Homo sapiens: one gene and its partner. The protein of the gene in region 1 interacts with the protein of each later gene in a pairwise test. Each region holds a gene or a part of one and is shown on either strand. Other genes may lie near its edges.

Region 1 (3,753 bases):
CTTAAGAAGGCCGAAGTGGGAGGACAGCTGGAGCCCAGGAGTTCAAGACAAGCCTGGCCAACCTAATGAGACTCCATCTCTACAAAAACTAAGAAATTAAAAAATTAGCCCAGTGTGGTGGTGCACATCTGTAGCCCCAGATATTCAGGAGGCTGAGGCAGGAGGACTGCCTCCTGGGGAGGTTGAGGCTGCAGTGAGCCATGATTGCACACCTCTACTCCAGCCTGGACAACAGAGCAAGACCATGTCTCAAAAAAACAAAACAAAACAAAACAAAACAAAAAAACCTTGCAAGATTTTGATAGGAATTTTGTTAATCTGTAGATCAGTTTGGGGACAATTGACATCTTTTGTGTGTTGATTTTTCTTCCAATTCATGATTATCATCATTGGAAAGAAGTGAGTATGATGAGTCTTCTAAGCCAGGCAGATAGCAAAAAAATTAGGAAAGTAAATGGATTGCACAGGAAGAATTAACTGGGATTTAAATAATCAAAGACAGAAAGGATATATAAAAGAAGTGACGAAGGAGATTTACCCTATTAGACTCCAGTGTATTAATCTAGGACAGTTTGGTTGCTATGGGGAAGCAGTGTGCAAAAACTTAAGAGGCACACAAAAGACTGATGTTTATTTTGTGGGAGTGAATCTTTTTTTAGGAAGGAAATAGCACTATTGTGGTAACAGTGATTCATTTTCTCCTCCTATCTTCTCTTTACAGAGAAGACCCAAATAGTGAACTGTTTCATGTAAGTTTTTATTTATTTTTGCCCTACTTTTCTCTAGGGAGGGGCTTACCACAGCTTATAAAAATACGTAAAACAAGATCAAATAAACTTTAAAATGAGGAAAAAGCCAATATGGTCCAAGGGAAAAGAAGATCAGGGTCAGGACTGAGATTAGGATGCAAAAGCCATGCTATGAAATTTTGTTTGTTTGTTATCTTGAGATGGGTAAAAAAAAAAAAAAACAGTTGACTGGGACAAATACCCCTAGCACAAAACAGTCATGAAGCCAATGTTTAATTATTATACCTGTCATCTTTTCACCTGGCCTCAGGACTGTCCTCTTAGGGAGAGGCATTGTTCTGTAGGGTTAATTAGTAACAGGAATTTAGATCCTGCTTTGAGAGGCCTCCTGTGCTGGCCGAAGCAGCTGGTGGTCTGAGAACCCTGACACCCAGAGGCATACCACTGGGAGGCCCCGCGCAGCACACAGCTTTTGCTGTACTCCAGCCCAAGTCTTATGGGGTTTGTGGTTTATACTGAAGTTGGTGCAGACAATTAAGACTCTCTGTTCTTGGTACCGACAGGGACAGAGACCTACAATTGTAAGTATTTTGTAAACAGGGTTGTGATATTTGTTTGAGTGTATTCAACATGTCAGTGGCCTTTTAATGTTTAAAAAAATGCATATGGCCATTTAAGAAGTGGTTGTGCTTCATAGTTAATATTTTTTTCATTAGGTTAGGTTCATCTGGTTTTTCAGTGAGGTGAGCTACCTGAGAGCCATAGGAAGATAGATCTTGCCAGTTCAGAGGACTGACTTTGGCTTTAAGAGAAAATATTTGTGTCATTTTCGAGAAAGTACTTCCAGCACAATGCTTTCTTCTGATGATTCATTTTCTACAGTTATTGGAAGTGGGAAGAAATCCACAGAGGTTACAGAATTTGTAAACTTGTAGAGACATGTGCCATTATATCATGCTGTTTCATAGATGTGTATGTCTGTTAGTTACTTTTCGGGCATTCATTGTATATATGTCTGTTACTTACTTTTGGGGTGTTCAGTGTCTGAGCTTTGTCAACGATTGTGTGCTCTTTTTTTAGCCTAAAAAAACTAAGTTAGAGAAATGTTTGCTCATCCAAATCTGTATTGTTGTAGCTTATTCAGTAGACTGCTGTTGTATTTTTAATTTCTCTATACAACAAGCTGAAAGACAGTGTGGACAACCTAATTGCATTTGAAGTAGCTGCTGGCCAGGCCTGCTGCAACAGCTGATGGGCTCCTCTGAATTTCCAGGGCTATTTCTGGTAGATGAGCTGGTATCAAGGCTCTCGAGTTCAGGCCATAAAAGGCCCGTCCCATGTGAAGTTGCTTCACTGCTCTGACTGCGTCCTCCCCAGGCTGAAGTGTCCTCAGGTTTCATGTGGATTTGCCCAGTAATGGATGGCTCCACCGAGGCCAGGTTGGGGAAGTTCAGCCTCGAGGACACTAGGGGACGAAAAACTTCAAAAAGAAGACTCTTTTTATTAATATTTTGGCGTTCTTTTTGGAGAGGAACTTTTGGGATGTAGCCTTTACCTGTTTCCTGAATTTGACATCCAAAAAGCCTTTTGGAAAACACCATTCTAAATTTATCCTGTTCTGAATCATCATCGCTTCTGATAGATGCAGTTGCTTGCTGACATCGTGATCTTTGATTTTGTACAACGCTATTTGGGCTAACTTTTGGGATTTTACTTTGTGCTTAGAATTTGAAAGTAGTATTCATTGGAAAGAGACTCCAAGAAAATACTCGAAGACATCAAAAGCTGGATTCGAGGGTATAACGTGTTTTGTTTTGTTTTTTAAATTAGAAAAATAAGGAATTGCAGTGTGATTTTCTTTCCCCCTTTAACTTAGAGGAACGAGGATTATACAGAAATTTGAAGTAAGTGAAAAATCTTCCTATAAATCTAAATGCAGTAGGTTTTTTTTTGTTGTTTTTGTTTTTGCTTTTTTTTAAGTGCCATCTGTCTGAGCATGTTTCCTGAGGATTTGTTGACTTCAGTCATTGGAAAATTCCTGCCAGCGTTTGCCAGTTACTGCAGCCATTCCTGTAGATACCCTTGGGCATATTTCTTGGGTTGAGAAGGATTGGACTTTTTTTTTTTTTTAAAGGATTTACTTTATGGTAGAGAAAGGTTTAATACTAAAAATTTGATTAATATAACTTAGTACATTCTGTCTAAATGTTAGCACTTAAAGTCTTGGAATTAAAGTATATTCACAATGCAACGTACTTTAATAATCGTAGCACAAGTATGGGGGTGGAGTTCAGAAGGGCAAGTTTTATTTCACTGCCATTATAATTCATGTAAAAATAGAAAATCACCAGTGATCCTTTTGCATAATCTTTGTTCTGAGGGTTCTTTGCCTTGGTACTCTCATTCTTCAGGGCTTGATTTCTAGAACTTGCGATGTTCCAGAATTTATGAGAAAAACCTCACTGTAGGTTCTAGAGTTTGAACTGCATTTTATTTTTAAATTCTCCAAGAAAAAATACTGCATCAGCCTTTTAAAGCCCTGGAGATTGCTATGGTCTCTTTGTAATTTAGCTCAGTGATTTGTTTCTGCTGAAAAACAGCAGTGAACTCTAGAACATAGAAGGCTTATTTGACGTGTTGCTTCTTTGAAAAAAAAAAAAGATTATTTCTTTATACCACATCAGATGGACAAGTACGGGCAGTCATTATTTTTACCAGGTAGGAAAACAGAGTATTTATAGAGAAGAACTTCATCGGTGAATACTGCGAGGGTTCTTCACCGGAGATAGTGTGGCAACCCTAGGGGGCGTTTGAAAATGCATGGGGGTGTTTCAGGTTTTCTCAATGACTCACTGGCATTTGGGAGGATGTGGTTAAGAATTGTAAATGCCCAATTTACATGGTGTAGGGGACAGTCCCATACAGCATTACCCTGGCCAAACTGCTGGTGGTATCCCCTGTTGAGTAAAACTGCAGGATATAAATTGTACCCTCTGTCTCCAAA
Region 2 (3,753 bases), on another chromosome or scaffold:
CAAAAGAGTGATTTCAGTGATGAACCTGCAGTCTAATCTGTAGAAAAGATGGGAAGACTCAAAGACACTGGTCCACAAGCAGAATATCGAGGTAGTGGATGAACAATCCAGAGAGAGTAGACTGGCTAACTGAGGGAAAGGACTTAAAAAGAGAAGAGCAGAGAGCCAAAAATGGACCCTTAGAGAACATCTGTCTTTGGTTGGACGGGATCCTCCCCCTACAAAACAAACAAACCAACCGGGGGAAAAATAAAGGGAGGGGAAGGGAAGCATAAAATTAAAGTCAGAGAAATATCACAGGAGTTACTAGAATGGTATCCATCCTATTTCCCTTGTTCAAGAAATGAATGTATTTCTTTATTGTTCATTGTAGAAAAACGAAGCACAAGGCTTGACTATACAGTGGCCACTCAATAGATATCTGCTGAAGAACGAATGAATGAATAGTAAATGCAAATTTCTTATTCAAACCTTAAAAATATCCTCTATTATCTGTCTTTCTAGCTGTTTATTTTTCCTTAAACAGCCTATACATAGTTGAATAATTACTCTGGGAAGCAATGGAATTGTAATTTGTGTTGAAGCCAGACACAATTTGGTTCAAATTCTAAAACTACCAGACACTAGACTGATCATGGCAATGTCTGACAAAAGTTTTCCTCCCCTACCTGCTCTCTCCCCTCCCTTTGGGGATTCGAAGGTAGAAGATAGTAAGAACAAGGCCTTTCCCCAAATAGCAGTTTTATCTCCCAAGATGATCTGGATTTTAAATTACTATGTGCAAAGTTACTAGGGATGCAAAAATGAATTAAAACAGATTTTACTGTAAAGGAATTTTTGAGTCTGATGGGGGAGTCAGACGTAGACATAAATACAAGACAAGACACGGCGAAAATCCTAAACATGAAGTTTGCAAGTTCCAGGAAAGGTCTAGGAAATAATTATCTCTAAGGAGTGGGTGGGATTAGGGAGGTTTTATAAAAAAAGTGACACTTGAATTGGGTACTGCAGGAACAGTCTAATGAAAGGTAAAGTCAGGGGGCTGGAAAGTTTGGTACCTATTGAGGCAGACAACAGCATTAGAGATCTATTACTTTAACAATTAATTGTTTTGCTTCTGCCTTTAGAAGCTTATTTATAGTTTAATAGGGAAATAAAACGAGTATATAACATACATAGAAAACTAGTGGGCTTCACGAAAAGCATTACACCCCGTTTTGAGGATTCTTCTGAATTTTAAATTCTGATGCAGTGTCCTCCCCCCACGCCTTAATCCCGGAAAATAAGTGTTCAGAATCACGTCTTAGAAATATGAACCATAAAGGACAGCATTTAAGAGCGACATCCTGCATTGCGTAGATTCAATTTCAAATTACTGTACTTAGCTTCTATGAGCCTGTTAACTTTTTAATAAAATGAGGATAATACTTTCCTCAAAGAATTGTTAAGAACGACACCGGATAAAGAATGCATGACAAACACAGCACCTAGTATCTATGTCCTAAATTTACGTTTAATTAAGTAGATTGGTACGTGCAGTTTAAAAGAGGTTTCACCAGGCAGCACAGTTCCCCTGGCTGTAGGCGATAGACCACGCCTTCCTAATCAGCGGGCGCATTCCCTGACTTTTGCGGAAATAGCGGTCCAAAACCGCGTCTAGCATTAGCAAAAGCACGTGGTCTCCGTCTCCCCGCAACAACAAAAAAGAACAGTAAACTCCGGCGCAGGCACCTCCAGTAGAGGGCTTGTTTTTAAAATCCATCCGAAAGGGCCAATCAGACGCGGCAGTCTGAGTGCGCAGGCGCGGATTGGTCCGCAGCTACTTAGAGTGACCAATAGGCGTGGAGGTAAGTTTGGTTGAGACCAGAAGCGGGCGAATTGGGCACCGGTGGCGGCTGCGGGCAGTTTGAATTAGACTCTGGGCTCCAGCCCGCCGAAGCCGCGCCAGAACTGTACTCTCCGAGAGGTCGTTTTCCCGTCCCCGAGAGCAAGGTGAGCGTCCTGACTGGGTCCGGATCCTGGCCCTGGCGGCGGGCGGTAGGCGGCGGGCGGCGTGGGGGTGCCGCTGGCTTTTTGCCGGCGGGTACTGGGCGGGGAGGCCTCTGGGATCACTCTCCCGGCCCTGTAGGTGCCGGGGACCGCCCCCTCCCACCCGACCGAACTGGAGAATCCGCCCCGGGATGTGGTTCGTAGGGGTGTCTGCGCCCTTCTGCTCGGGTTCAAACTGGTCTCGGATTAGTGTCCCAGACCCTACTCGGTCACGGACTCACACTTTAGGGGATCATTTTCTTCCTCCGTAAAAGAATTGGAGATGACTAGGTATTTCCAAGCCGCCTTCCCAGTCCCGTAACCAACCTTATTGAAATTCAGGCCCTGGTCCTTTGTTTTATTGAGTAGATGTAAGCTTGAGTTTTGATCTGGTTGGCGACGTGGGGTGCCTATGGTTAGTTACGCGAGCATTTCTCTTTCCCCTCTCTTCTTCCTCCCGTCCACATTTTTTTTTTTCTTTTTTTAAATAGAGATAGGCCTCCCTATATTGCCTAGGCTGGTCTGGAACCCCTGGGCTCAAGGGATCCTCCCGCCTTGGCCTCTGTAAGTGCCAGGATTACAAGCATGAGCCACTACGCCCGGTCCTCCCTTCCACATTTATTTGAACGCGCCTGTGTGCCCGGCTCGGCTGTGTAATGAGGACCCAGAAATAAAAGGCATGGGTCGTGTCCTTGAGCCTGACCTAGAGGAGAAGGCAGGGTTATCATTCTCAGACCCAGCCTTGGTACAGTGCACGGGGACTCTGGCTTTTTGGAGGAGGTGGGGAATTCTGACAACGGGAAAGCAGTGGTGGAGGTGGGGCAGGAGGAGGTCACACAAGAGCTTCCTTGGGGACTAAGGGACTGGGTAGTTCGGGCATGAAGAGTGCCCTCCACGTATTTAAGAGATAAAGATACAGCATTTTCTGGAAAGGACAATAGTCCTGCAAGTCCTCCATGCAGGAACCTTCATCCAGGGCTTTTCTTCACTCCCCACCTCGATTCCCTGTTCCTCAAAAGTAAACTTCTGGGTTTATTTTTTTGTTCTTTTGCCCCAATGGCCCAATACAGGTGGCTGATAGCTGATCCCTTAATGGGCCAAAATCTGCTCTAATCACAGTTAGCTTGGTCTACATCTATATTGTTCTCTATCTTAGACTTTGGAATGGAAAAGCATTCAGCTTGCCAGTCTTCTTTATGTTTATTCCCCTCATTTTCTAATCATCTTTCTAAATTGCTCCTTTTTATATTCTGTTGGCTATAGCATCTTGATGTAATGATTTCAGTTGCTGGCTGAATTGTTTAGGGCAATTACAGTTGTGTGTCTCTGGGTACAGTTCTTTGACTCCTGACAAACTAGATTGGAATGGAGGATATTGAGACAGGGTCAGTTGTCCTTTGTTGGTTGAGAGGCATGTGACTCCTTTCAGTAGTTTTGGGATAAATGGGAGTGGAATACAAGATGCTGTGTTCCAAGAACTGAGAGCTAGAAAAAAAAACAAAACTGGTAGCAAAACACAGCTTTCCAGGGCTTTGATATCCAACTTATATGTTGTCTAAGACCTTTGCTTCTCCCTCTTAATTTTTTTTATTGTTCTTAGTACTTTCATGAACTGCTTATTGTTTTGATAAAAAGTTTCATTGATAAAATCGATTGAAAAAAACCATTAAAATGGCCGTTAACTTTATTTAGTAAAAAAACAAATTCTCAAACTCTTGCCTAAGT

The links. Proteins that work in one complex are often made in the same cells at the same time.
Region 2: the proteins of SVIL (region 1) and CENPF interact in a two-hybrid assay, tested with the Homo sapiens proteins (one study listed by BioGRID).

What each region holds. Positions count from the first base shown.
Region 1 is NC_000010.11:29,633,320-29,637,072, reverse strand, and holds the start of SVIL (supervillin), read left to right. Parts: upstream 1-2,101; 5' UTR 2,102-2,653; intron 2,654-3,753.
Region 2 is NC_000001.11:214,601,330-214,605,082, forward strand, and holds the start of CENPF (centromere protein F), read left to right. Parts: upstream 1-1,865; 5' UTR 1,866-1,992; intron 1,993-3,753. UniProt on the Homo sapiens protein: Required for kinetochore function and chromosome segregation in mitosis. Required for kinetochore localization of dynein, LIS1, NDE1 and NDEL1.